Homo sapiens: one gene and its partners. The protein of the gene in region 6 interacts with the protein of the main gene of each other region in a pairwise test. Each region holds a gene or a part of one and is shown on either strand. Other genes may lie near its edges.

What was found.
Region 1: the proteins of TERT (region 6) and STEAP4 interact in a two-hybrid assay, tested with the Homo sapiens proteins (one study listed by BioGRID).
Region 2: the proteins of TERT (region 6) and TIMM21 interact in a two-hybrid assay, tested with the Homo sapiens proteins (one study listed by BioGRID).
Region 3: the proteins of TERT (region 6) and ACAA2 interact in a two-hybrid assay, tested with the Homo sapiens proteins (one study listed by BioGRID).
Region 4: the proteins of TERT (region 6) and SERBP1 interact in a two-hybrid assay, tested with the Homo sapiens proteins (one study listed by BioGRID).
Region 5: the proteins of TERT (region 6) and EIF2S1 interact in a two-hybrid assay, tested with the Homo sapiens proteins (one study listed by BioGRID).
Region 7: the proteins of TERT (region 6) and DACH1 come close enough for resonance energy transfer, tested with the Homo sapiens proteins (one large-scale study listed by BioGRID).

The regions. Positions count from the first base shown.
Region 1 is NC_000007.14:88,285,907-88,290,014, forward strand, and holds part of STEAP4 (metalloreductase STEAP4), read right to left. Parts: intron 1-4,108.
Region 2 is NC_000018.10:74,154,576-74,158,683, forward strand, and holds part of TIMM21 (mitochondrial import inner membrane translocase subunit Tim21 precursor), read left to right. Parts: intron 1-569; coding exon 570-632; coding exon of another isoform or gene 633-649; intron 650-730; coding exon 731-828; intron 829-3,438; coding exon 3,439-3,512; intron 3,513-3,595; coding exon 3,596-3,701; intron 3,702-3,800; coding exon 3,801-3,905; 3' UTR 3,906-4,108. UniProt on the Homo sapiens protein: Participates in the translocation of transit peptide-containing proteins across the mitochondrial inner membrane.
Region 3 is NC_000018.10:49,789,174-49,793,281, reverse strand, and holds part of ACAA2 (3-ketoacyl-CoA thiolase, mitochondrial), read left to right. Parts: intron 1-954; coding exon 955-1,130; intron 1,131-1,682; coding exon 1,683-1,812; intron 1,813-4,108. UniProt on the Homo sapiens protein: In the production of energy from fats, this is one of the enzymes that catalyzes the last step of the mitochondrial beta-oxidation pathway, an aerobic process breaking down fatty acids into acetyl-CoA.
Region 4 is NC_000001.11:67,420,023-67,424,130, reverse strand, and holds part of SERBP1 (SERPINE1 mRNA-binding protein 1), read left to right. Parts: intron 1-3,944; coding exon 3,945-4,108. UniProt on the Homo sapiens protein: Ribosome-binding protein that promotes ribosome hibernation, a process during which ribosomes are stabilized in an inactive state and preserved from proteasomal degradation.
Region 5 is NC_000014.9:67,373,428-67,377,535, reverse strand, and holds part of EIF2S1 (eukaryotic translation initiation factor 2 subunit 1), read right to left. Parts: intron 3,069-4,108; coding exon 2,989-3,068; intron 1,098-2,988; coding exon 946-1,097; intron 1-945. UniProt on the Homo sapiens protein: Member of the eIF2 complex that functions in the early steps of protein synthesis by forming a ternary complex with GTP and initiator tRNA. This complex binds to a 40S ribosomal subunit, followed by mRNA binding to form a 43S pre-initiation complex (43S PIC).
Region 6 is NC_000005.10:1,291,804-1,296,526, forward strand, and holds the start of TERT (telomerase reverse transcriptase), read right to left. Parts: upstream 3,266-4,723; 5' UTR 3,187-3,265; coding exon 2,968-3,186; intron 2,864-2,967; coding exon 1,510-2,863; intron 1-1,509. UniProt on the Homo sapiens protein: Telomerase is a ribonucleoprotein enzyme essential for the replication of chromosome termini in most eukaryotes. Active in progenitor and cancer cells. Inactive, or very low activity, in normal somatic cells.
Region 7 is NC_000013.11:71,437,313-71,441,290, reverse strand, and holds the end of DACH1 (dachshund homolog 1), read left to right. Parts: intron 1-598; coding exon 599-636; 3' UTR 637-3,325; downstream 3,326-3,978. UniProt on the Homo sapiens protein: Transcription factor that is involved in regulation of organogenesis. Seems to be a regulator of SIX1, SIX6 and probably SIX5.

The DNA of each region.
Region 1 (4,108 bases), on a different chromosome or scaffold from region 6:
TAATGTTGTAATGACCCAACAGGTTTGCCTTGCCTGCTACCTAGACAGAGCTGATTTCTTCATATGAAAGAACATTTCAGCTCTTTATGAGAGTCCCGAAAGTTTTTTCCTTTATTTTAATGTCATAATCTCCAAGGTTATCAGAAACTTGCATTCAAGAGCACCTGTCAAAGTTTTATAGCTGATTATAAAACCATCTCCTAAAGAGGACCAAATCAAGACAACAATTGTCTGCAGATGACAGAAATGTTTTAGGGAAGCCGCAGTCAAAGAAATTGACAAGGAAATTTGTTACCTCTGTGGCACACAAAAATTCAACATAACAATTATAATTATTACTGATAACATATACTGAGGCATATTAGAATTATAGAAATCTTATACAATTTTATAACACATACTAATAACATATTTATATGAGTATAACTCAAAGAAAGTTAAACACCATTTTATATTTGACAATGTTTCCTGCATGATTTTAATACATTAAATAAGCCTAATATATCTTTTTGAACTTCAGGATATCTAATTTTTTTTTTTAAACTTATAATTTGATCTTGGAAGGTTTGTCAAATATCAAAGATTTAAAACACTGGATATCACAAAATAGAGTCCCGTGTCACCATAAGTCATTCATTTACCCAAAATGATAACTCAGGGCTGGGCATGGAGGCGCACGCCTATAGTCCCAGCTACTCTGAGGCTGAGGCATGATAATTGCTTGAACTTGGGAGGTGGAGATTGTAGTGAGCTGAGATTGCACCACTGCACTCCAGCCTGGGCAACAGAGTGAGACTCTGTCCCCTGCCCCCAGAAAACTGCTGTGAGCAATTCCTTCAGGGCCCTCCATACATATAAACACACACACACACACACACACACACACACACACACACACACACGCAAACAATGTAAGATGAACAGAAGGCCTTCAAGACACAGATTCCAGACCCAGTCTCAAACCAAGAGTAGTCCTCCAAACAAGTTCCTTAGTCTCCATCCAATTAGACAACCCCTAATGGGGCTACAGACAGACACTCTGTAATGGGGCTACAGCTACAGACACCTTGTAATGGAGCTACAGGCAGATACCTTGTGATAGGGCTACAGACAGACACCCTGGGAGGTTACTAAGAGACAGCAGCACCTCCAGAGAGGCCAATAAATCAGGAGAAGGAAGGGGCTGTTGGTAGCTGCCTGGAATACTCACCAAATCAGACACCTTGCATTGAGGCTACAGCTACAGACACCCAGTGATGAGGCTACAGTTATGAGATATCTCCCTAGCATTACTTCTCCACTGCAATTGAATCCATGCACATTGGGTCAGCAGCACCCCACTGGCAGAGAGTGCCAGAGTCAGCCCCTAGTCCAAGAGAACTAGGTGGCCACTTGGGTTGGCCTCCAGATCCATCACCAGAGGTGGGCTACAGAGCAGGTAACAACAAAGGCAATCCTGGTCGAGCCCCCAAATTTGTAACTGCCCAATGGATTCACCTTGCCTGCTGCCTAGACAGAGCCAATTTATCATGACAGGGGGATTGCAATGGAGAAGGAGTAATTCAGGCAGAGCTGGCTGTATGGGAGACACGAGTATTATTATTACACAAATCAGTTTCCCAGAGCACGAAGATCAGAGTTCTTAAAGATAATTTAAATTAAAATAGGAGCTCGAAAGTGGGAAGTGCTGATTGGTCAGGTTGGAGATAGAATTATAGAGGGGATCGCAGAAGTGGTTAAGCCAGATTACCAATCTGGGTGGTGTCAGCTGATCCATCCAGTGCAGGGTCTGCAAAATATCTCAAGCACTGATCTTAGGTTTTATAATAGTAATGCTATCCATAGGAGCAATCTGGGGAAGGTCAGACTCTTGTAGCCAGAGGCTGCATGACCCCTAAAATGTAATATCTAATCCTGTAGTTAATCTGTTAGTCCTACAAAGGCAGACTGGTCCCCAGGCAAGAAGTGGGTCTTTTTGGGAAAAGGGACATTATCAATTTTGTTTCAGAGCCAAACCATAAACTAAATTCCTTCCCAAGGTTAGTTCTGCCTGCAACCAGGAATGAACAAGGACAGCTTAAAGGTTAGAAGCCAGATGGAGTCAGTTAGTTCTGATCTCTTTCACTGTCATAATTTCTTCAGTTAGAATTTTTGCAAAGGTGGTTTCAACGTTGGGGCAACTCAAGAGTTACCTGAAAGAAAAAAATAAATTTATACCTTATACTCCACCCCAAGGTAAATTCAAAATAAATTAAAGATTTATTTTATTTATTTATTTTGTGAGACAGAGTTTCGTTCTCGTTGCCCAGGCTGGAGTGCAATGCTGTGATCTTGGCTCACTGCAACCTCCGCCTCCCAGGTTCAAGTGATTCTCCTGCCTCAGCCTCCAGAGTAGCTGGGATTATAGGCATGTGCCACCATGCCTGGCTAATTTTGTATTTTTAGTAGAGACAGGGTTTCTCCATGTTGGTCAGGCTGGTCTCGAACTCCTGATGTCAGGTGATCCGCCCACCTCAGCCTCCCAAAGTCCTGGGATTACAGGCATGAGCCACTGTGCCCAGCTAAAGATTTATTTTTAGAAAAATGAAACTAGAACAGAACTAGAAGAAACCATGGAACATTCTTTTATAATCTTAGAGGGGAAGGTCCTCTTCCTACATCATTAAACCATTAACAAATAGTTGGACAAATGTGATTGCATAAAAATAAATAACTTCTGCAATGCAAAACCGCTAAGCAATGTCATAATGAAGATAATCAACGAACTGGAAAAAATATTTTTCAACTCATATAAATCAATGAGAAAAAAACAATTGCCCATTAGAAAATTGGGCAAAGAATATGAGCTGATAGTTTATCCTAAGGAAATATATAAAAGACTTCTAAACACAGTAAAATATTCTTAATATTACCCAAAACTAAAAAAAAATGCAAGTTAAAACTAAACTGAAATACTGTTATGAACCATGTGGCTGTAGAATTTAAATAAAAAACAAACCAGTTTGTATGATCTCCTGCAATAATCTAGGTTGTTTTTTATACTTTTGAAGAATATCTTTTCTTTCAGTATTGAATTTTTCTCAAAAATGTTTCTTTTCCAATATGTAGTTTAAGCTTTCAGTTAATCTTTTATTTTTTTTGGTGCATGCATGCGCGTGTGTGTGTGTGTGTGTGTATGTGTGTGTGTTTGTGTGTGTCTATTGTTCAATGATGTATCTTCAGTGCTCAGAAAAGCACTAACTACCACAGTCTAGGAAATTTATAAATATTCGTTGAACTATATTAAAAGGGTGGGATGAAGGGGCTGGAAGTACAAAAGTTTACTCTGTGTCCCAGGCACAGTGTGAGATAAATAAAAAGGAAGATGCTGAATGATTAAAGAGTAACCAATGGAGAAGAGTAAGAAAGAAGGAAAGAAGTGGAAGAGATGTTGTAAGGACATTATTTCTTTCACCCAAATGGGTTGAAAGTAAAACTCTGTGAATTTGATGCAGAATTTTCAAACCAGACTTAATCACTACTCAATTCTCCTATGGTGGATTTCATGCAGATTGCACAGTGTATGTAGAGTTTGCACCTTTTTCCTGGGGTTTCAGAAATTTGTGCTTTCCATTTTAGCCTATCAAAAACACCTATATTCTTACCGGAGCTTATCTGAAGTTGCACGCCTCCATCAAAAGCAGAGCATTTAGGCCTTTGTAGGGAGGTAGAAGTTATGGGAGAAAGGGACAAGAAATACAGGACATTCCTGCACTCCCACAGAAACTCTGAATAATCTAATTAAGTACATCTGAATCATTTTATAAACAAACTGGCGACTGATATCCTGAATGGGTGTCATCAAAGGTCATGACCACATGTGGGGAAGTACCTGTAGATGATCAGGGAACTTTGTATAAAAGTGCAGCTGTGCCTTTGAAAATTTCTTACTAGCATCTGCACATGCAGACTAGTTTAGCAATTTACCTTCTATTGGTTGATTGCCAATCAGTTAACACCTAGTTTTATAAATCAAACCTTCAAACTGCTGAACAATGCCTTCATTATTCTACTGTAGAACTGGTTTGTGTCACAAAAGAATGTGTGACTGCCTATCTCCTCACTTAAA
Region 2 (4,108 bases), on a different chromosome or scaffold from region 6:
GATTGAGTTTCTCTAGCTCTCAGAGTGTCTGTTTAACCCATATGCACATATTTTATTAGTGTGGGAAAACAAATGTCTGGTCTGTGCATTTTCTTCATTTTCTAAGTTTAATTCATAAATCTTTCTGGCCAACCATATTCCTACTCTGAACACAGTTCTGTTTTTATGCACCAGTCAGTGTGGGGTGGGACTGGCATTCGAGCTAGTTACTAACTGTTAAGAGTTGACACCCATTTTGGTCCATTCAGTCCCTTACCCATTTGGTTGACAAAAGCCAGCACTCTTCCTAATCTGGGAGTGTTGCCTAACCTACAGCAGTTGTGGACTGGATCACTTGTTAAAAGGATTTCTTCATCCTAAATTAAAACATAGATTCCCAAGCCCTGCTCTGAGAATTCTGCTGAGGCGCTGACACACAGGGAGTTTTCAAAACAGCTGCCCCTGAACACACACAGACCCCTTGCTTTGATCTGGAGGCTGCTTTTCTCTCGCAAGAAGTGCAAAAGCAGCAGACAAGCTTGCCTGCTCCCAGCCGGCACCCGTAACCCATTGGTGTTTTCTCTTCACAGTGAAAGAAGCCGGAAGAGATTTTACCTATTTAATAGTGGTGCTTTTTGGAATCAGCATTACAGGTTGCAAAAAACAGCAAGTATAAGCCCTTGAATATTTTTTAAACTGGACTTTTTATGTTGCCCTTGCTTCGCTTCATCTTTGTTTTCTGTGATTTCAGGTGGCTTGTTTTACACGATTTTCAAAGAACTTTTTTCTTCATCCAGTCCTAGCAAGATATATGGGAGAGCCTTAGAAAAATGCAGATCACATCCTGAGGTTAGTTCTCAAGATTGAGTTACATGAACTCTGATGAGGGGGAGAAAATGTCTGGGAGGAGGAAGTGGGCAGAATTCAAGAACCAGTTCTCACGCTAGTGAAATTCACATAATAATACATAATGGTCGAGTCATCATTACATTATTAGGTCTTTGCTCTTTAAGAGAACCCAAAAGTCAGTGTACAGATGTTTTCATGCTAATTGTACAAGACAGTCATTTTGCTGGTTGTTCATAGATACTAAATTTTTAGAATACACCAAAATATTGAACTCATGGTAAGTTTCTAGTCTTTTTAAAGCCTGATGCATGACCTCATGGTCATAATGTCATTGCTGACACTTACCGAAAATGTGTCCGTGCAAGCACTCTGCCCAGGGTCTCAGTGCATCATCTTTATTCAGTCTCACAAAAACCATTTGTGTTCGGCACTACTTTGTCTTCAGTTTGCAGAAGGGGAGACTGACACTTAAAGAGATTAAGTAACTTCACCAGGATCACTGAGCTAGTAAGTGGGGGAACCGGAACCCGAATCCACACAAATCCAAAATTTGCTTCCAAATCTAAGCTCTTAAGCACAGTCTGCCTCTACCCTTCCCTGGGAGGAGTGGACATGGGGAAGCTGCCTTGGTTCTTTGAAGGACCCTGTCAAGAAGGAAGGCTTTAGATGTGACCTTCCAGTCACACGTAGCCGGTGTGGCCTGGGAAGTGTCAGATTTCTTACTCCCTGCTGCAGACCTTCAGCACTGAAAATATTACTCATTGAAATACAACTTCATTCACCCTGAAAGATAACAGCAGGTAATCGTCTGCCATTATCATCATAAATATTAGGGCTGTTCTTCACACAGACCAAGGAGTAATGTCATAGCTCGCATTTGCAGCCCCTGAAGAGGAGAAAGATTTCAATCCACAGCGTGCTCAGTATAGAGCCCGGTGCTGATCTTCCCTGGGGCCCCGGCTCTGAATGTTCTACCAGTTTTCTAATCATGTCAGGGTGGAAACCTCAGAAGCTAACGATCTCTGGCATCTTTCCTTTTAAATCCACTGATTTCTCTTCATTGAGCTCTGGACAGCCAGTGGTAACCATGGAGAAAGGCAGGGAGGATAAAGTATCTCAGAGGTGAAAACCAGGAAATAAGGAAGGTTCGTTCCCATAATAGTTACTGGGAATCCAAATTTTATCTGACAAGAAACATTCTTTACAGACTCCGGAAATACCTGTGGGTGGTAACCTCATTAAATGTTAGGACGCATCTCTGGAAAGAGATGAAGAGTTGCTGTTTTATTCGCAAACTCAGCCTTTCGTAGATTTTTCAGCATTTTGAACAAAAAACTCCACAAGAATATACAAAAGTGGGATATTATTGAAGTCGTAACTTCATTTGCTGCCTGAAAAAACTCTACAAATAATAATTAAACTTTAACAATTTTGTCAACATTTTTTAAGGGGTACCCTTCTCTTTGCTGGGTACTGTGTCTGCTTGAAAAACAAAATCTTGATGGATGTTGATATTTATATGTTTAATAGATTAAAGTAAATTGTTCTATTTGTTTGTGCTATACAATTCTGCAATATCATCTTACATATTACTTCTTTTTATCCTGGAAAATGTGATACTGAAGATACTCCACAAACAGACAAAATAAGATAAATTTCGTAGAGTTGAGGGTCAAACTTTTTTAGTTTAATATCAAATTTATATTTTTTAGAGGGTTCCACAGTATTTGCATTTTGAATTCAATAAAAACTACATTTCTACTTCATGTGGATTTTCTCATTAGAAATAGTAGATTCACACCTGTAGCTCTGATTTATTTTAAATGTCATTATCTGTTTTCTTTTTCCTCACTGTGTTTGGTAACTTTAAAAATTTTTTGATCTCATAGTTTTAGTATTAGATGCTATTAATTAATTACATTTCATTAAAAATGTTCATACATTTTATCTTCAAACCATAAGGGGTTAGTAGAGAAACATCTGAACTCTGTGTTGTTATGTTTGTTTTCTGTAAGAGGAGCAGGAACTGCGTCATGTCAACCTACATTGCTTTGAAACTACAAGTCACACCATAAAGCTACCTATTTTAATCTTTGTGCATGAAATATTTGTTTAAATTATTTATGGGATGATTTTTGTATAATAACCCTTTTTTCAGTTTTCTTATTGGAGTGGTCATTTTTTTATTTGTTTGTTTGTTTGTTTGTTTTGAGACGGAGTCTCGCTCTGTCACCCAGGCTGGAGTTCAGTGGCACGATCTTGGCTCACTGCAGCCTCTGCCTACTGGGTTCAAGCGATTCTCCTGCCTCAGCTTCCTGAGTAGCTGGGACTACAGATGCGCATCACCATGCCCAGCTGATTTTTATATTTTTTAGTAGAGACGGGGTTTCACCTAGTTGGCCAGGCTAGTCTTGAACTCCTGACCTTGTGATCCACCCATCTTGGCCTCCCAGATTGCTGGGATTATAGGCGTGAGCCAGGAGTGGTCATTTTTGAAAAGGTCCTAAGCTTACTGATTTTTTTTTCCTAAAATCATCTGGTTTGTTAAAAATTATTTCTTTAGAAGCTTAAAAAAATAACACAAAATAAAGCACTGTCCTTGTTCTGCAGGTGATCGGTGTCTTTGGTGAGTCTGTTAAAGGCTATGGGGAGGTGACAAGGCGGGGTCGCCGGCAGCATGTCAGGTACTGTGGCTTGAATTCAGAGGAGGCTCTGGGGAGATTTTTAAATGAAAGGAACTTAGACTGATCTTTCGTTTTCTCGACAGGTTCACTGAATATGTAAAAGATGGGCTGAAACACACGTGTGTGAAATTCTACATTGAGGGCTCTGAGCCAGGGAAGCAAGGAACGGTGTATGCGCAAGTGAAAGAGGTGTGGGAATCATGGGATGTGGGGTCAGAGGTTCTGAGCGCGGTGTTATTTAAGTTCTGGAAAGGAAAATAATACCTGGAAACACTACATTTTTTTCAGAACCCAGGAAGTGGTGAATATGATTTTCGATATATATTTGTAGAAATTGAATCTTATCCTAGAAGAACTATTATCATTGAAGATAATCGATCCCAAGATGATTAAAATAGGGTTTCTGATGGATGTTGAATGGCGTGGACTCGCTACTCCGTTCTTCACAGCTGCCTTCCAGAATGTGTTCAAAAGAAAGACAAGAAGGAGTGTATGGCTTATAAAGTGAATCTAATACAGTATTTGTTGCATTTAAACAAACTAGACATTTTCTTACGGAAAAATTATGAAATACAGCATATTTTATGTTCTCCCAT
Region 3 (4,108 bases), on a different chromosome or scaffold from region 6:
TTCCTGACCCTATTTCCAAAGCTATAGATTACTACAGTACATTCTAGTCAGTGGAGGTCAAAGTAGGTAAGATGTTTTACTTATAATTGTATTAGTGATTGCTCCCATAATTTCTTCAGGTTGCCTATCACTATTAAGTTTCAGTTAGATTACTTTGTGGCATAGACAACTTGGTAACTTTTTAATTGCTTATCTCACCAAAAGAAGTTTAAAAGGGGTATTAAGTCCATTTATTGCCATTACATCTATAGCAAACAGACAGATGCTGCTAACAGTCTTAGCAGTACCTGGTGAAAAAAAATTGTGGTTAAAAAAATATAATTTTTAAAAATATAATTTTTAAAAGATGCAAAATGCATCTACATAAACACATGACAGTATCGTAAATCCTCCAATACGGAAGGTAAGTTGTGTAAGTAAATAGTAAAGACTCTATAATTTTTAAAAGATGCAAAATGCAACTACATAAACACATGATGGTATCGTAAATCCTCCAATACGGAAGGTAAGTTGTGTAAGTAAATAGTAAAGACTCAGGCTGAGCGTGGTGGCTCATATCTGTAATCCCAGCACTTTGGGAGGTCAAGGAGGGTGGATCACGAGGTGGTGAGTTCGAGGCTAGCATGGCCAACATGGAGAAACCCCATCTCTACTAAAAATATAAAAAAAATTAGCCGGGCATGGTGGTGGGCACCTATAATCCCAGCTACTGGGGAGGCTGAGGCAGGAGAATCACTTGAACCCGGGAGGCAGAGGTTGCAGTGAGCCGAGACTGTGCCGTTGCACTCCAGCCCAGGCGACAATGTGAGACTCCATCTCAAAAATTAATAAAGACTCAATATTAAAGTAGACTGTGAGGAAAAGGTAGATCAGAAATTAAATTGAATAATATGTTTGATTTATTTTCATGTTTCTCTCTTTTATTCTTATGATAGTCTCTCTACTATTTTTCAGCTAATGATGCTGGCTACTTTAATGATGAAATGGCACCAATTGAAGTGAAGACAAAGAAAGGAAAACAGACAATGCAGGTAGACGAGCATGCTCGGCCCCAAACCACCCTGGAACAGTTACAGAAACTTCCTCCAGTATTCAAGAAAGATGGAACTGTTACTGCAGGGAATGCATCGGTTGGTATCACCACACAGATTAGCTTGAATTCTTCCTGGTGTGTTCAACAAAAGTAATCATGAAGTATCTTGTAAATACTTTTTATGCCAGTCTTTAGTTGTTTAGCTTAAACTAATAGTGTTCATATTCAATTAATTTAGGTTTTCATAGACCCACACAAAATCTTTTCATATTTATTTATATAATACTCTTCTGATTTCTTAATTTTTTCAGAACTAAGAAATTTCAGAAACAAATCTATCTGGCTTATTTTGGTTTTCAAACTTTTTTTTTTCTCATGCATACAGTTTATCGTATTTCTTCTTACATCTACTCACATCTAGATAAAAGTTTTTCCTTGACACCCTTTTCCTTGTTCTTTAGTAAAGTTGTATTCTGTGCCTTAAAAAATCTCCTTCATCCACCACAGTACCACTTTTCTAATTGTATCTCACACTGTGCACTGGCTTCCTATGTACTGCCATATTCCTAATACTACTAGTCCATTAGTTCAAACTTTGATTAACTGGATTATTTTAGCCTTTAGTTAATCTAGTATTTTTATTTTCAAGGGTGTAGCTGATGGTGCTGGAGCTGTTATCATAGCTAGTGAAGATGCTGTTAAGAAACATAACTTCACACCACTGGCAAGAATTGTGGGCTACTTTGTATCTGGATGTGATCCCTCTATCATGGGTATTGGTAAGTTTATAGTAAAACAAACTGGTTCTATAATATTTCTGGAGGTAAGTCTTCTTTGGCATTCAGAGTCCTGAAAAAGTGGCCAAACCAAGGTCACCTGTAGAGAAAAGAAGATTGGTAATCAGTTTAAATAAAAAATCTTTATGAAGAACTGTCCTAGACACAATAGAAAAACCAAGACCGTGTAAACTCCATGGAGGAAGTAATCATATCTTAGTGTCCATTTGAGATTTAAAAAATCAACACACAGTAATTATATCTTATTGTTCCTTTGAGAGTTTAGAAATCAACACAGAAAATAACAGAAGAATTACGTGATCCTGACAAGATAAAAGAAATTATGAGATGGGAGAAATCCTGGGGTGAAACAGAGAAGGCTGTATGGAGAAGGTGGTATCGCAGCTCCTTGCTGGTTGTTTTACACACATTCAGTCTTCCCACGTCTCCAGTAAGGGAGACTTCTTTGTGAATGAGAAAATTGAGGCTTAGGGAGGTTGTCTTACAAGGTTCCAAATCAGTAAGTGACAGCCAGGGTGTGAATCCAAGTCTCTCTGAAATCAAGTGCTCTCTTCACTGTGAGTTAAACGCATAGTCTCAGGAAGTCAAATTAATATTCCTCTTGCTCAGGTGAGTATTAGCAAAATAAAGACTTATAATTAGATTGGTAAAATGCTAGATGGAAAAAATTTGGAAGTCCATAAACATGTATAGTCTTGGCTTAAAATATTTGATTTAGAAGTAGAACAAAGAGCTTTTTGCTGGATGCACTCCTAGGAACCACACACGATGCTGAATTTTAATAGTTCCTGTCATTCTCTGGGGGAACAGGGAACCAATTAGGTGCCTTACTTAGAAAAATAAAATTTGGTGCTCAGTAACTTTGATATATCCCACCTACATATAACCTCCCACTGTAAGGAAAAGCCTGCCCTAGGGTATAGATTTCAGATTGTTTAGCCCTTTTTTGAATAACTAAATTGTTTTCTGAGGTGGGTTCCAAGAGAGGAGGAGGAGGATAACCTGTTACTGACCTGCCATCTCAGAGATCCTTCAGTGTAAGCCTACAGGTTCTACTCAAACAATACCACTTACACTGACTTGGGATTAATACTCAACCATATTTGCTGCCATGTCCCTCAGAGAAGACATATCTCTGTATAGAGTTCCTAAGAAAAAAAGCTGGCATGTTCATATTTTGTCATCTTTCACTATGTGTCTCAAATTTATGTCAGCAAGAACTGCAAGATATTTTGACACATATGAAAAGTCAATCTTAAGCTTATTAGCTTTTGGCTATCCACTATTGGCAAAAGATAACTTTTGTCTTAGAAATGGAAGGTGGTGGAAAAATTAAACATCCGTATGTTGTTATGGCATTTATTATTTTGATATCTAGGGTAGTGGTTCCCAACCTCAGATGATTGTCAGAATCCACTCATAACCCCCACACCCTTAGATTTTGTTTCAGTAAGTCCAGAGTGGAGCCCAAGAGCAGAGTTGGTTTTGTTTTTTGTTTTTGACACAGAGTCTCGCTTTGTCACCCAGGCTGGAGTGCAGTGGCGTGATCTCAGCTCACTGCAACCTCATTCTTCCCAGTAGCTGGGATTACAGGTGCCCGCCCCCACGCCTGGCTAATTTTTGTATTTTTAGCAGAGACAGGGTTTTTCCACGTTGGCCAGGCTGATCTCAAACTACTGACCTCAGGTGATCCGCCCACCTCAGCCTCCCAAAGTGCTAGGATTACAGGCGTGAGCCACCATGCCCAGCCCAAGAGCAGAGTTGGTTTTTTTCCTGCATACACCTAGATGCTTTTGATGATCAAACAAATGTATGTGACATGGGTTGGCTATTTTATACTCCTTTTTCAGTTTAACTTTATTTAATAGGTTCTGGTAGATTAGCATAGCCAGTGAACCAAGAAAGCGTTGTTTTCCTTCCTTCTGTTCCTGGGCCTGAATATTTGCCCTAAAGTACAAAGAATGCTCCTGTGGTAGGATTGTCATTTTTCCTCGGGGCTTGAACAGAGCTGTACATTCCAGATGTCCCACAGTATCAGCTGCCCCCTTCATCTAGAAGTTTGGCTGTCACTTGTATATAGTGATGGGATTAAACAAAGTAACTCGTTGAAGCATCCCAGATGAATAAGTGGGGAGAATAAGTTATTAAGTATCTAGTGGGAACTGGTTTGTTAATCTAACTTACAAGAATAGTGGTTCTCAGTTCCATGATTACCTAATGACTAGCAATCCTTAGCCCTGCAGAATAGCTGCAGACCAAAAAAAAACGGGGAAAGCCA
Region 4 (4,108 bases), on a different chromosome or scaffold from region 6:
CCATAGATTTAATGCTGTTACTTGATGGCTTTTTGTTTTTGACAAGGGAGACTTACTGTACCCTCATCCCTCAAAGAGTATTTGAAAGAATGCTTTTTTTTTCTTTTTTTAATAGAGACAGGGTCTCACTATATTGCCTAGGCAGGTCTCCAATTCCTGGGCTCAAGCGTTCCTCCTGCCTTGGCCTCCCAAAGTGCTGGGATTACAGGCATGAGCCACTGCACCCAGCCCTTAAAAGAGTGGTTTATGTGTATATATTTGACTCTAACGCTTTGAAAAATAGAATATTTTAATGTGGTTATTTCTGTTTGATTAGTCATTTTACCATTGTCATACAACTGTACAAATTTTACTTTGAGATAGTTAAAACTAGAAAATGTGGCCATTTTAACATTAGTTCTATCTTGAAGTTATTTCCAATGTAGAATTTGGAACATAGCATTACTGGCCTGTTTTTAAATGTATGAAGAGAGCAAAGATCAGAGTATGTTATTCACTATCTTTTTTTTTTTTTTTCTTTTTTTGAGACAAGATTTCATTCTGTTGCCGAGGCTGGAGTGCAGTGGAGTGATCTTGGCTCACTGCACCCTCCGCCTCCTGGGCTCAAATGATCCTTCCACGTCAGCCTCCTAAGTAGCTGGGACTATAGGTGCCTGCCACCAGGCCCGGCTAATTTTTGTATTTTTAGTAGAGACAGGGTTTCACCATTTTGCCCAGGCTGGTCTTCAACTCCTGAGCTCAGGCAAGCCACCCACCTTGGCCTCCCAAAGTGCTGGGATTACAGGCGTGAGCCACCTTGCCCAGCCCTTCACTAACTTTTTTTTTTGTGTGTGTGAGATGGAGTTCACTCTTGTTGCTTAGGCTGGAGTGTAGTGGCACTGTCGGCTCACTGCAACCTCCGCCTCCCGGGTTCACGCGATTCTCCTGCCTCAGCCTCTGGAGTAGCTGGGATTACAGGCACCCGCCACCATGCCTGGCTAATTTTTTATATTTTTTAGACCAGCTGGCCAGGCTGGTCTCGAACTCCTGACCTCGGTGATCCACCCTCCTTGGCCTCCCAAAGTGCTGGGATTACAGGTGTGAGCCACCACACCCAGCCCTTCACTAGCTTTTAAAATTACATGGTGTTTTGTTTTGTTTTGTTTTGTTTTGTTTTGTTTTGTTTTGTTTGGAGACATTCTCGCTCTGTTGCCCAGGCTGAAGTAACAGTGGCGCTATCTTGGCTCACTGCAACCTCCGCCCCCTGGGTTCAAACGATTCTCCTGCCTCACCCTCCCGAGTAACTGGGATTACAGGCATGCATCACCACGCCCAGCTAATTTTTTGTATTTTTAGTAGAGACAGGATTTCACCATGTTGGCCAGGCTGGTCTCGAACTCCTGACCTCAGGTGATGCATCCGCCTTGGCCTTCCAAAGTGCTGGGATTACGGGCATGAGCCACCACGCCTGACCTAAAATCATGTTTACTTTGCCAGTTATTTGTTACAGTATTGTGGTTTAAAGTCTTGGATTACAGGTTATTTAGGACAGTGATTCCTAACCAGAAGCATATTCAAGTTAGTTGGGGGGTGGGAGGGGCAGATGTTTTCTAAACTTTTTCTTTTTTCTTTTTTTTTTTTGAGATGGAGTTTTGCTCTTGTTGCCTGTGCTGGAGTGCAATGGCGTGATCTCGGCTCACTGCAACCTCTGCCTCCAGGGTTCAAGCAATTCTCCTGCCTCAGCTCCTGAGTAGCTGGGATTACAGGCATGTGCCACCACGCCCGGCTAATTTTGTATTTTTAGTAGAGATGGGTTTCTCCATGTTGGTCAGGCTGATCTCGAACTCTGACCTCAGGTGATCTGCCCTCCTTGGCCTCCCAAAGTGCTGGGATTACAGGCGTGAGCTGCCGCACCTTAAACTTTTTCTTTTCTTCAGAAAGAATTTGCTCTTATGGTGAGCACTGTTAATGATGGGAATATCATATTCCGTGGATTTGTTGGGATAAGGAAAAATGATATACTATTGGAGGGAGTAGATAAAAATACATGGTATTGGGTGATGTTTTGAACTTGGTAATAAAAATTTATGCAAAACTATAATGGAATCATAATTTTGCATGATAAACAATGAAGTTGTGATTGGTGCCTTAACAAATGAACCCTATGCAACGTTAAGTTTCTCATAGTGGTCAACACAACTTTTTTTTGTTTCTTTGAGACACAGTCTCCTGTCTCCCATGCTAGAGTGCAGTGGCGCGATTTTGGCCATTCTGAAGTTCAAGCGATTCTCCTGCCTCAGCCTCCCGAGTACTGGGACTACAGGCATGCTCCACCATGCCTGGCTAATTTTTGTATTTTCAGTAGAGACATGGTTACACCATGTTGGCCAGGCTGGTCTTGAACTCCTGGCCTCAAGTGATCCTCCCGCCTTGGCCTCCCAAAATGCTGGGATTACAGGTGTGAGCCACCGTGTCCAACCACAACTGTTTAATAGAGCCCATGTTCAATCACTCAGTGATATGCAAAGATTATAACTGTTTACCAAAAGGTACTAATGTATTGATAGGCTATTGGTAGCAAATCCTTAGCTCAGTGCCCAGGAGCGAAACTGAGGGTGTTTGGTTTAAAGAAAATAATTATCCATCACATTAGAACTGTCTGTAATCTTATTCCAGACTAGGGGAGAATCTGGGCATAGCATATGGAAGTATAAATTTAAGAAACACAACATTGGCTGACTTTGATGAACTAACTTATATATAGCTTCCAGAGCTTCTGTTTGGTTTTTATTTAATCCTTGCAGTAATTCCTGAAAGGTAGGTGTCATGCCTCCATGATATGATAAAAGGTATGCTAAGTTCTATTCCTGGCTGTGTCATAACATATGGGTAAGCAGGACTTTTTTTATATTCTTAGATTTCTCATCTGTAAAATGACTAGGTGGACTCAGTACCCAAGATCCCAAGATCCTGTCAATTCAATATAAACTTGCTCTAGGAAGTTTTTTGTTTTTTTTTTGCAGCATAGATGTAACTGGAGGAACTTTTAAGATAGCATTTGTCAAACAGTAAAGGGCAGCATCCAGGGAGATATTTGAGCTCTAAGGCTAACTGAATCACCTGCTATCTTTGGAAAGAAGCAGGGCTCCCCAAATAGCAAATGACTTGTTTGGTGACAATTGCAGATTGAGATTATACTAAAATAATGGATCCTTAGGCCTGTGCTTTGTTTCTGTAAAAAGAGGAAAGGATCATATTCTATAGTTAAGACCTGAGAATTATATTTGGAAATAAATGGTTTAGTATTAAATAATGAAACCAGTGTGTGTTTGTGGATAGTTCTATTAGTAGTGAATCCATGGCCTCCTTTCCATATACAGGTTGGTTTGAAAATTGGAGTATAAGGATTTTAGGATTTGTAGAAACACGGCTATTGTTTTGATTTGCTCTAAGTGCTAGTTGCTGAAACAAAGCATAGAGGAACAGTTCTTTTATATTCCAAAATTTGAACCCTGGTTGCTGACAGACATCCTAGAGGATTACCTTCTTGTATGTTATTAAGAGTTACATATTGTGGGAATTATGGAAATTAAAAATGTGGTTTAGGAGAAGATAGGCTGAGGATTTTACATAAGAGGGTAGTTTTTAAACAAGGTAGTGTTTTTAAGAAATGTGTATTTTAGTATTCGTAAAGCCAGTTCTAGATTGTATTACTGATAAATGATCATTTAAGAGTTCATAAGTATGAATTCCATATTCCTTACTTGTCTCTAATTAGCAAACACTGAATTCCTGGTCTCTACCAAGTTGCTTAGTTACATAGGAAACTAGGGTACCCTCATCCTTGAATAATCTTTCTCTAAAAGATTACAAGGTTAATTTTCTCAATTAAAATCATAAATTTAAAATACTTTTATGTAATATCAGCTCTCTACCAGGTATAAAACTTGAAAACCTTTTCACAGGGAGAATGAAGTTGAAGAGGTAAAAGAGGAGGGTCCAAAAGAGATGACTTTGGATGAGTGGAAGGCTATTCAAAATAAGGACCGGGCAAAAGTAGAATTTAATATCCGAAAACCAAATGAAGGTGCTGATGGGCAGTGGAAGAAGGGATTTGTTCTTCATAAAT
Region 5 (4,108 bases), on a different chromosome or scaffold from region 6:
TGAGACAGTGGAAAAGTAGTTCTTGTGCAATGGTTTCTATTTTCTTTATAAAATAAAATAGGTAGTGAGCATACCAGCCAAGAGGCAGGGAGCAGGGATAGAGTGGTTTTCTGAGGAAGAACGTGGAAAAGCTCTAAAATAGCCACTACTGAAGAACTGACCAGGAGCAGAGAGAATGTGGAACAGCTGAGGCTGGAGACCATGAATATGCAGTGGACCAACCTGCAAGACTGATTTTTCCTAGTAGCACCCAGCAGTCTACAAGTACAGAGAAGGCAGGAACATTGATCCAAGGCTGGATGGATGGAAGGAAAAACAAGGCAAAAGCTCACAATAATGGCAACAAAGTCGTTAAAATGATGTATCATGGTGTGCCTATGTTGGATAAGAGAGAAAAGGCAGGAAATGGCGAAAAGACAGGGAGAAAAAAGGTTTGGAATCAGATCCTAACATACAGAATTAAGATGACAAATAATAGGACCAACTGGGAGCTAGATGAATAGGAGGCAGGGGCAAAAGAACAGAAAGTGTGAATTAAAGATTTTAGTGGCAGAGCAAATCCCGGTGATAGTAAGGCCCAGGCTAAGGCTACATGGAAGACTGGCTAAAGTGGTGTGGGCTGAAAGTCAAAGGAGAGTCAAAAGAGGTAGAGAAAACAAGAGGTTATAGTTTTTGGTGAGACATGCTCTTTAGTCCCATAGCCACTTAGGACAATAACTAGGAAAGGAAAATGTGTGAGATAAACCATATGGTTTATGAATCTACATAACTATGATACATAAAACTACACAGACTTGACCATATAGGATTGGCCCATTTACTGGCCAATACAAAATATTTTAATCTAAATTTGGCAAGTATTTTATACATGGATGCTATGCTGTTAAATATCAGGCCAAGAGTTGTGATATCAAGGTAGAAGGAGAGTCAAGAAGGTATTCTTACGAGACTGCATGCTTAAATGCATCATAGGCACCATATCCAGGTCTCTTGTACTTGTCATCAAAGACCCAGGCAGTCCTCTGGAATAGGCTTTCCAGCTGCTCATCCTTGGTGTATTCTAACACCTCAGCAACATGACGAAGAATGCTATAAACCTAGAAATAAAATGAAAAGCTCAACAATTCAAAGATAAGAGATTTATAAAAAATGTTTTTACATTTTAGTAAATAACATAATTTGGCTACAATAATTCCTTAACAATAAAAGATCTCCATAGGGAAATACTCACTTTAAGTGGGTATAAAAAGTAGAGATAGTATACAATTTAGGGTCCTAAGACCTGGATCAAGTCTTGACAGTAACACAGTATCTCTGAACTTGTTTCCTCCTCTGGAAAAAGAAGAAACTAGCATCTCTCCTTACTACAGAGTGCTCGCATAGATCAAATATATAGAAACCACACACTATAAATGGAAAACGGCTATACAAATACAAGTTGTTATTATTACTCCCTGAGGAGAGAATCACGATAAAAAAAATTTTTTTTCTGTCATCTTACCCACCTGCCAAACTTTTTCTTACCTCCTAAAATTAACAGGGTGTAGACAAAAAGTATTAAGGTCTTCATCATAGTTACACATAAAAATTGAGTGAGAAAAGGTACTGACACTGAATAACTCTTCCATTTTAACATCTCAATAAGATCTATTAACACACTCATTTTAACAATATCCTAAGGAGACAAAAAAATATGAAATTTTCCCAGAAAAGTGCTTCTCAAAAGTTAGTAGGACCTGAGAGTCTGTATTTCTAAAAAAACAGGTGATGTCAATGCTGCTAGTTTAGAGACTACATTCTAAGTGGTAAGGTCCTAGAGTTTATTAAGAAGATATTTTACTGACAGTGTTTTCAAATGTGTAAACCACACTGCATAACTGTAAATACATCAGTAAAACAAAGGAAATGATTTGGGTAACTGATGGCTTTTAGACCTTTATTTTCTCTCTTACTGGGATTAAGCAAGATTTTTTAAAATCTCTTCATTGAAACTTTTTTTTTTTTTTGATATTTTATCTTGAGGACAGAAACACTCATGGCAGAAAAGAACAGACACCAGAGAAGGGCAAAGAAAACAGAAGCAATACAAACAGTACCACTAAGAACTGAGGATAGGCTGGGCACACTGGCTTACGCCTGTAATCTCAAACATTCCGGGAGGCAGAGGCGAGAGGATCGCTTGAGCCCAGGAGGAGGTGGTTGCAGTAAGTTGAGATTGCGCCACTACACTCCAGTCTGGGAAAGACTTTGTGACACACACACACACACACACACACACACACACACACACACACACACACACAGAACTGAGGATGTAGAGGATGAAGGATAACTTAAACAGGACCTGAGAAAAGAGAAATACTGACAGAAGAAATTAAATGGCTATCTTTGCTTTGCTGCTGCTTACTGTGGATGACAAGCAGGAAGTAATAGCAAAAATAAGAATGCAAAAAGAAATAATCCTAACACGCTAGTGGAGGGGGAAAAAAACCAAAACTAGTAACAGGCCTCTGCCTTGCTTTCCTGGATTCACAGACATTTTATAAACCCCTGTTCATTCTTAACATATAACAGCTGGTTGTCTCCGTTACCCTCATCCCAGAACAGGGTTGAAAATCAAGAACTGTATTTTGGCCAAGTGCATTGGCTCACTTCTGTAATCCCAGCACTTTGGAGGGCTGAGGCTCAAGGATCACTTGAAGCTCAGGGTCTGAGACCAACCTGGACAAAATAGAAAGACCTCATTTCTATTTAAACAAACAAAAAAACCCCGTATTTTATGAGGCATTCCAACTGTAAACAAGTTAAAGCAGTTGAAGTCACCCACAGTTAATTTAACCTAAAACGGCTTCAAAACACTTCTAGTACTAATTTGAGAATATTAGATCATAAGCAATACTTTAAGGTAGTAGCAGTATGAAATTAAGATTTCAAATTATTTATTAAACACACAGATAGTGGACTAATTTGACTCAAAGATCAACTTACAGTTTTGGATTTTGTGAATTTGTCTTCACATTTGATTGCTTCCTCTGGAGAAACTCTTCTTTTTGACAAATCAATATATCCTGTACAAAAAAATTGTGAAAAAATCATCTCTGTCCAGATGCCACTGTACTATTGTAACCAGCTTTGAAGACCAAATTAAGTGTTTGATTGGCATACTTATAATTATTTCCTACTAAAATCCTATCAACAAAATACTGCATAAGTATTACAAGGCTGAGTATCCCTCATCAGAAATGCTTGGGACCAAAAGTGTTTTGGATTTCAGATTTTGGAATATTTGCAATGTATTTACTAGTTAGAGCATCCCGAATCTGAAAATCCAAAATCTGAAATGCTCCAATGAACATTTCCTTTGAGTGTCATGTTGGTGCTCAAAAGTTTCAGATTTTGGAGCATTTTGGATTTGGGGATAAGGGATACTCAATCTGTACAAGATGAGAGATTCTGAATTGTTTTCAGAAATAAATTTTTATTATCAGGTAATTATATATATTCCATTACCTTACTGGAGAGAACTAATAATTTTCAATTATCCAAATGAAAGGTAGTCAAATGCCTATCTTTCCCCTATTTCTTCCTTTTCCTTCTCCAGAATAGGAAAATTCACTAAGATGTTCATTTAGTTTAAGGAAAGAGGCTATCGTCACAGAAGACACACACACACACACACACACACACACACACTGAACAAATTAAAACTATCTAATCTACTGTATGACTACCATATACAAGTAACTATGTTAGGTGCTTAAACATCTTCTTGAACCCTCACAACAATCCTGCATGGTAGATTATCACTCTCTTTCCCACAGCGCCCCCCAGTCTTTTTAACCTGAAGAAACTAAAACCCATGAAAGGTTAAGTAACTTGTCAACGTCAAATAGCCAAAAATGGCTGAAACCTACAAACCTGTGCCTGGCAATGACTTCCAGTACAATGCTGAGTAACAGTGGTGAGAGTGAATGTCTTGTTCTCAATACTGGAGGACAGCATGTCTGTGGTGTTTTTCTAGACACTCTTTATCAGATTAGGAAATTCCCTTTTAGTTCTTGTTTGCTGACTTATTATGAATGGGTGACAAATTTTGTCAAATGCCCTT
Region 6 (4,723 bases):
TTGTGACCTCATCTGAAGTCAGAGAACAGCAATGACAGGCAGAGTCCTGATCAGAGAACTCAAACTCTCCTCAACGAAGGAAGCTGGAGCACAAAAAGCAAAACTGGGTTGCATGACGCTTATCTGACTCGGCGTGGTCCACCTGAGCCGCAGCAGGTGTGAGGCAGCTGCCGTTCGATGGGTAGGGACTTCCAGTCACGCAAGACGCAGCATTTCAAGCAACCTGCTGTAAACACCGCCGAGTTAGCAATTCTGCACTGTACACAGAAAACGGTGTTAGGAGTGCCAATCTCATGTTATATGACTTTTGCCACCATAAAAAGAAAAAAAGAAAAAAAAGAGCCCCAAGAAGGTCACCCTCCTTGTCTGCATGGCCGGAAGTCTTACATGTCTTGGGAGTTTGTGGGGAGGGGGTGAAATCGGGACTTCTTCTAGCTGCCACGGTAGGGCCTGGGAGCACTGGGAGCCAAAAGGGGGCTGGAGCGGAGGTTCCTCAACATCAAATCCAGAAAAACAGGGTGGGGACACGGCAGGGCCCAGCAGCACCATCCCCTGAACACCCACAAACACTGTCCCTTCCTCAGCAGGTGGAGCCATCTGCTGTCCTCTGCTCCCATGTGGCCCTCTTCATACCTAAAGATGGGACCAGGATCTGTGCTGGAGAACAGTCTTATCTCCCTCCCTCTACCCTGTCCTGGCACAATCAACGAACACTTTTTTTTTTTAAAGACAGAGTTTCACTCTTGTCGCCCAGGCTGGAGTACAATGGCACAATCTCAGCTCACTGCAGCCTCCGCCTCCTGGGTTCAAGTGATTCTCCTGCCTCAGCCTCCCAAGTAGCTGGGATTACAGGCACACACCACCATGCCCAGCTAATTTTTGTATTTTTAGTACAGATAGGGTTTCACCATGTTGGTCAGGCTGGTCTCAAACTCCTGACCTCAGGTGATCCACCTGCCTCAGCTTCCCAAAGTGCTGGGATTACCGGCGTGAGCCACCGCACCTGGCCGTCAACACACAATTAAATCTTAAACACAAACCTGCATATTGGCTGACCACGTGCACCTGCAAAACCCTTACCTCCCACCCCCAGGAAGAGGGGGTTCTCGTCCCCACCTCTCATTCCCACCCTTGAAATTGCGAAGAGGATTATAGGTAACCTGCAGGCACCCTCGCCAGAGCGTCTGTGCTTCCAGACACTTCTCCCCATTGCCGGCAACCCGGCTCCACTGCCGCGCCCAGCCTCCTCTGTTCACTGCTCTGGCCTCGGCGCCTGGAAACCGCGTGTCCATCAAAACGTGAAGGTGAACCTCGTAAGTTTATGCAAACTGGACAGGAGGGAGAGCAGAGGCAGAGATCACCGTGTCCACTCGACGTCCTGAGCGAAAAGCCACGTGTGCCCACGTGACGATGGAGACAGGAGGACCAGGGCTCTGCCTGCCCCCTTTTCTGAGCCCCTACTGCATTCAGCTCTGGGGCCTGGGCCCTCGACGGCCACCACCTCCTCACCTGGGCTCCTGCGCAGCCAAGCGCAGTCCCGCACGCTCATCTTCCACGTCAGCTCCTGCAGCGAGAGCTTGGCATGCTTCCCCAGGGAGATGAACTTCTTGGTGTTCCTGAGGAAGCGGCGTTCGTTGTGCCTGGAGCCCCAGAGGCCTGGGGGCACCAGCCGGCGCAGGCAGGCCCGCACGAAGCCGTACACCTGCCAGGGGCTGCTGTGCTGGCGGAGCAGCTGCACCAGGCGACGGGGGTCTGTGTCCTCCTCCTCGGGGGCCGCCACAGAGCCCTGGGGCTTCTCCCGGGCACAGACACCGGCTGCTGGGGTGACCGCAGCTCGCAGCGGGCAGTGCGTCTTGAGGAGCACCCCGTAGGGGCACTGCGCGTGGTTCCCAAGCAGCTCCAGAAACAGGGGCCGCATTTGCCAGTAGCGCTGGGGCAGGCGGGGCAACCTGCGGGGAGTCCCTGGCATCCAGGGCCTGGAACCCAGAAAGATGGTCTCCACGAGCCTCCGAGCGCCAGTCAGGCTGGGCCTCAGAGAGCTGAGTAGGAAGGAGGGCCGCAGCTGCTCCTTGTCGCCTGAGGAGTAGAGGAAGTGCTTGGTCTCGGCGTACACCGGGGGACAAGGCGTGTCCCAGGGACGTGGTGGCCGCGATGTGGATGGGGGGCCCGCGTGGTGCTGGCGGCCCACGGATGGGTGGGAGTGGCGCGTGCCAGAGAGCGCACCCTCCAAAGAGGTGGCTTCTTCGGCGGGTCTGGCAGGTGACACCACACAGAAACCACGGTCACTCGGTCCACGCGTCCTGCCCGGGTGGGCCCAGGACCCCTGCCCAACGGGCGTCCGCTCCGGCTCAGGGGCAGCGCCACGCCTGGGCCTCTTGGGCAACGGCAGACTTCGGCTGGCACTGCCCCCGCGCCTCCTCGCACCCGGGGCTGGCAGGCCCAGGGGGACCCCGGCCTCCCTGACGCTATGGTTCCAGGCCCGTTCGCATCCCAGACGCCTTCGGGGTCCACTAGCGTGTGGCGGGGGCCGGGCCTGAGTGGCAGCGCCGAGCTGGTACAGCGGCGGCCCGCACACCTGGTAGGCGCAGCTGGGAGCCACCAGCACAAAGAGCGCGCAGCGTGCCAGCAGGTGAACCAGCACGTCGTCGCCCACGCGGCGCAGCAGCAGCCCCCACGCCCCGCTCCCCCGCAGTGCGTCGGTCACCGTGTTGGGCAGGTAGCTGCGCACGCTGGTGGTGAAGGCCTCGGGGGGGCCCCCGCGGGCCCCGTCCAGCAGCGCGAAGCCGAAGGCCAGCACGTTCTTCGCGCCGCGCTCGCACAGCCTCTGCAGCACTCGGGCCACCAGCTCCTTCAGGCAGGACACCTGCGGGGGAAGCGCCCTGAGTCGCCTGCGCTGCTCTCCGCATGTCGCTGGTTCCCCCCGGCCGCCCTCAACCCCAGCCGGACGCCGACCCCGGGGAGGCCCACCTGGCGGAAGGAGGGGGCGGCGGGGGGCGGCCGTGCGTCCCAGGGCACGCACACCAGGCACTGGGCCACCAGCGCGCGGAAAGCCGCCGGGTCCCCGCGCTGCACCAGCCGCCAGCCCTGGGGCCCCAGGCGCCGCACGAACGTGGCCAGCGGCAGCACCTCGCGGTAGTGGCTGCGCAGCAGGGAGCGCACGGCTCGGCAGCGGGGAGCGCGCGGCATCGCGGGGGTGGCCGGGGCCAGGGCTTCCCACGTGCGCAGCAGGACGCAGCGCTGCCTGAAACTCGCGCCGCGAGGAGAGGGCGGGGCCGCGGAAAGGAAGGGGAGGGGCTGGGAGGGCCCGGAGGGGGCTGGGCCGGGGACCCGGGAGGGGTCGGGACGGGGCGGGGTCCGCGCGGAGGAGGCGGAGCTGGAAGGTGAAGGGGCAGGACGGGTGCCCGGGTCCCCAGTCCCTCCGCCACGTGGGAAGCGCGGTCCTGGGCGTCTGTGCCCGCGAATCCACTGGGAGCCCGGCCTGGCCCCGACAGCGCAGCTGCTCCGGGCGGACCCGGGGGTCTGGGCCGCGCTTCCCCGCCCGCGCGCCGCTCGCGCTCCCAGGGTGCAGGGACGCCAGCGAGGGCCCCAGCGGAGAGAGGTCGAATCGGCCTAGGCTGTGGGGTAACCCGAGGGAGGGGCCATGATGTGGAGGCCCTGGGAACAGGTGCGTGCGGCGACCCTTTGGCCGCTGGCCTGATCCGGAGACCCAGGGCTGCCTCCAGGTCCGGACGCGGGGCGTCGGGCTCCGGGCACCACGAATGCCGGACGTGAAGGGGAGGACGGAGGCGCGTAGACGCGGCTGGGGACGAACCCGAGGACGCATTGCTCCCTGGACGGGCACGCGGGACCTCCCGGAGTGCCTCCCTGCAACACTTCCCCGCGACTTGGGCTCCTTGACACAGGCCCGTCATTTCTCTTTGCAGGTTCTCAGGCGGCGAGGGGTCCCCACCATGAGCAAACCACCCCAAATCTGTTAATCACCCACCGGGGCGGTCCCGTCGAGAAAGGGTGGGAAATGGAGCCAGGCGCTCCTGCTGGCCGCGCACCGGGCGCCTCACACCAGCCACAACGGCCTTGACCCTGGGCCCCGGCACTCTGTCTGGCAGATGAGGCCAACATCTGGTCACATCCCGCCCGCACAGGGTGGAGGGCAACCTCGGGGTCCAGGCACCTGGCTCCAAGCCTCGGACTGCAGAGCTAGGAGGCCCGACTTCCAGCCCAGCAGTAGAAGCCACACGGCCACTGGTCCCCTCCAGACCTGGGGCCCCGGCACAACCGCAGGACAGCTGAGGACTTCCCAGGAATCCAGACTCCGGGTTGCTCAAGTTTGGATCTAAGGGGCGAGAAACTTCTGGGTCTCCCGAGGCCTTGCAGGGATGCTGTAGCTGAGGTCGGCAAACACTGAAATGCTAACAAACGCAACCTTAAATGTAACCTTTCCTACTTTCAGAAACTGCCGGAGGAAATTGCTTTATTTATGGAGCTAGCATTTGAACAGGCCTCGCACCCTCCCTGGGCTGTCACGCTCGCTGGAGGTTAGCCTCGTCTTGTAAATACTTAGGATTACAGGTCGCTCTTCTAGAAATCCCCTTAGTGATCCCTAAGCCTTTTTAAAGGGCTGTGTTTGTGAATTGTCTCTGCCACTAGGGCAAAGGGGCGGTTTGGAAAATTTGTTCCAACAAAAGTTAAGTTGTAGCTTACACTGGTTCTCTGCAGAGAAGCC
Region 7 (3,978 bases), on a different chromosome or scaffold from region 6:
AGTAAAAGTTGAATAATATACAGTGTTTACATTTTAATATTTAATTGTTGGATGAATCTCACTTCAAGGGGTAAAGGCTATAGTTCATTGACAGTGATGAAATAACCTAGCTGGCTTTCATATAAATAGCAACGAATGTGCACAATAGTTACATTACATGGTATATTTAACAACACTGCTAAAGAGTAAGATGGGAGTTCAGTCTTTCCTGATGGAGATACACCTGAGTGCATTCAGAGAAAATTTGGTTCTGCAAGCTTGAAGGAAGTAATTGTTATTCAACAGAAATCAACTAACTTTGCATATCAGTAAAATACACACACATACTCTTAGCTATTTTCTGAGTGCTCTGGAACTGATATCAAAATAGCAAATATATATTTATGAGAAGTAGAAATGCTGTATTCTTTTCAGTCACATAAACTCAGTGTAATTATGAAATTAACTTAACTTTGAGAAGATATGAAAAATGTTACTTCTTAACCAAGTAAAGATCTAATAAAAACTACAAATTTTATATCAAGTTACATCATTTTTACATGCACATTTGTACCCCAAATACCATGCCATTAATTAATTTTTCACTGTTCATTTCTAGATGGAAGACTGTATTTGAAAACTACTGTCATGTACTGAATCTTTCCTGTTGAAGAAATCCATGTTATAGAAAAGAACTTTGCAGTCAGACATTCGTCATGGGAAAGTTCAGAAAAAAATAAAGTCCTTTTAAGGGAACTTCCTGAATTTTGTGTATTAATGTTCTTTAAAAGTTTAAGTATTCTACAAAAAAAAAAAAAGTTTTCTCCATTGATTTTCACCTGTGGTTCATACCAGAGACCTGAGAATGTTTGTAAATGTACAAGTATCAAAGTTCTTACAGTTAATTACTGCAACTTGCTGCTGGACAATTGTATACAGAGTTAAAGGCAGGTCTGAATAAGACCTAGCTTTGTTTTTTTCTAATGGAATGAACCATTTTCCTCTTCTGAAAATTCTGTATCTGAGCACATCAAGAGACTCTTGTAGCAGTGGTTACCCAGACTTACAGAATTATGTCCTCCAGAAACCAGCAAGAACACTTGGAATGAACGAATGAACTTGTAGGGGGCATAGAGGATTCTTGAAAAAAAAAAATGCAAGAGTGATTTTCTGTTACATTCAATTTCAAACTCTCTAATTGTGGGTTTTCTCCTGAAGAATTTTTTTTCACATACTTTCCAAAAGACCAACAAATGGATGTTGACAACAACCCAATGAAATAACATTTTGCATATCTGAAAAGAAGCATTGAATATAAGCCAAAAGCTTTCACTGAAGGTTTTTTTTTCTTAAAAATAAAAAAAAATATATAAGTGTAACATGTTTTCATTCCAAACTGGTAGTGGTATGTAGAATTAAAGATAATAATGTTGCTTCTTATTCAAACTGTTGGTCATATGTACAGTATATAAACATAAAACACACAAGGAAGGTATTATGTATGCAGTAGTATACTAGAGTTTAGGAAAATGAAAATTTTAGAAAATATGTTTTGTCACCCTGTTGGTCAGAAAGATGTCTTTCTGGTTTTAACGCATGCAGGCATGTAAATATTTGTCTGGAGTCACAGTATTAATGAATGAGATCTTAAGCATCTGGTGACATCAGAACTCTGTGTCAGCCACTTTTATTTGTATATTGAACCCTAGCTAGTGCCCCAAGCTGCACTATTGGGAATGGATTGTGGCTGAACAGCAAATCAAAACACCAGAAATATTTTTATATGTTAACGTCATATTATGTTAATGTTGCTGAAAACAAAACCTAACAAACCTTGATGTACCAGTCCAATACCATGTAGCGCTGAGTGATAAAGTTAAAATGTGCTGTGCTTCCCACCCTTGTCAGAGGGAAGGGTGGCTATGTGTTATTTTCACTGTCTTTTTGAAAGTTACAGTATGTGTTTTCACTTTCGTGCAGATAACTGGAAGTAAAGCGGCAAACAGTGCTTATTACATGCTAAAGTTACCTTCTCTTTGTTTTTTGCATATCTGGAATTACACCTTTAAAGACTGATATGAATCAGTACGGTCACTATACATTTTATGATTTTTCTGTCATCTTAAAATTGTATGATCGTAACATTATTTATTACCACAAAACAGCAAAATCTTCAATGTCTAAGAAAACTAGCTTAAAATGTTTAAATATAGTTCTGATTGGGTATTAATTACTTGATTAAGAAAAAATTAACATTATAGATACTCTGGCATTACGCTTCTATACCTTTTAGGTCTTCCTTGCAATACTGGAACATAATTCTTTTGTGTAGCTCACTATTAGCCAGCTAAGTTCATCTTTTTAATACCATAAAAAGGTTATATGTACAGTTCCTATTTTAGCTTGCTTACAAAGGGAGCATTATTTTTATTTAAAGTATTGCTAGTAAATGATTTGTAGAAACTTGGTTTTCTAAGCATAGTTCTTCCATAACCACCTTTTGTTGTTTGAGCACAAGGGATTCTTTTCCTAGTTCTATGTGTTTGTTTCCCTATATGCAGTCTTTAAAGGATTACAACACTTAAAATTGAATGGACTTGTGTCAAGCTTTTTGCATCATACATTTTTTGAAAGATTTTTAAAAAAGCCTACAACTTACATATGTAGTAGAATCAGCCATTGCTCTGCTCCTGGCATAGAGTCACCTGTTTGTTATGTGGATTAAATAGTTTTAAAATACATATTTGAAGACCTTTGAGAATGCTTTAGTGTTTGATTTGAAATAAAAGGAAATTTTAGCAAGGATTAAAGAAAAAAGCTATCAGCTGTATGTTAAGAGAGACTCTTACTAACATGTTGTAAATATTACAATTCATGAAATGTTATTGTAAGTCTGTAACTTAATTTTTTCCCTGTTTTAGTTATACAGGTTGGTTTGGAAATTTGTGTTTTGGCATAAACAAGTAAAATGTGCCCATTTTATGGTTTCCATGCTTTTGTAATCCTAAAAATATTAATGTCTAGTTGTTCTATATTATAACCACATTTGCGCTCTATGCAAGCCCTTGGAACAGAACATACTCATCTTCATGTAGGACCTATGAAAATTGTCTATTTTTATCTATATATTTAAAGTTTTCTAAAAATGATAAAAGGTTATTACGAATTTTGTTGTACAAAATCTGTACAAAAATCTGTTTTTACATCATAATGCAAGAATTGGAAATTTTTCTATGGTAGCCTAGTTATTTGAGCCTGGTTTCAATGTGAGAACCACGTTTACTGTTATTGTATTTAATTTTCTTTTCCTTTTCAACAATCTCCTAATAAAACTGTCTGAAATCTCCCTGTGACTTTATTTACAGTTCATCTTTATTAAATTTTGTGAAATGCATAGCATTGAAGGAATATTTACTTTCTAATGGGAGGCATCTAAAAACAACACAAGTCAGCTCTTTGCAATGCAAGGGGAACAATGCTCAATGATTTTATTTAACATGCAACTGCTTCTATCTCTAATATGAATTACTGTGGTGAAAAACATCATAAAAGCACACTCTGTAGTTATTGTTTAACAAGCAGATTTTCCATATTTTGTTTCTTGCCAGCTAAGCAAACTGCCCACATATACATGATTTATTTATGTACATTTCTCAGTTTATGAAGCTGTTATTTGTACCTTTTTTCTTTATATTCTTATATTCCCATGATTCTTATTTCACAAAGCTTTGTGCTGAATAATGCAAAGTAGACATGTTGATGGAACAAAATATATTATTCCCATATCTATGAGTGGAGATTTGTAACTCTAACTCAGTGTTTTGCTTTTGATCTCTATCTTTGGAAAAAAAATGCCTTTAGAAACTTTGAAATTACAATATCCTTTAATAATACATAAACACTTTAATCAATCAAAAGTGCAGCATTTGAAGAACTATCGGGTTGCTATCTCTGTGAATATTCTAAACATTCCCAAGAGAAAGGAAAATGAATTTTTCT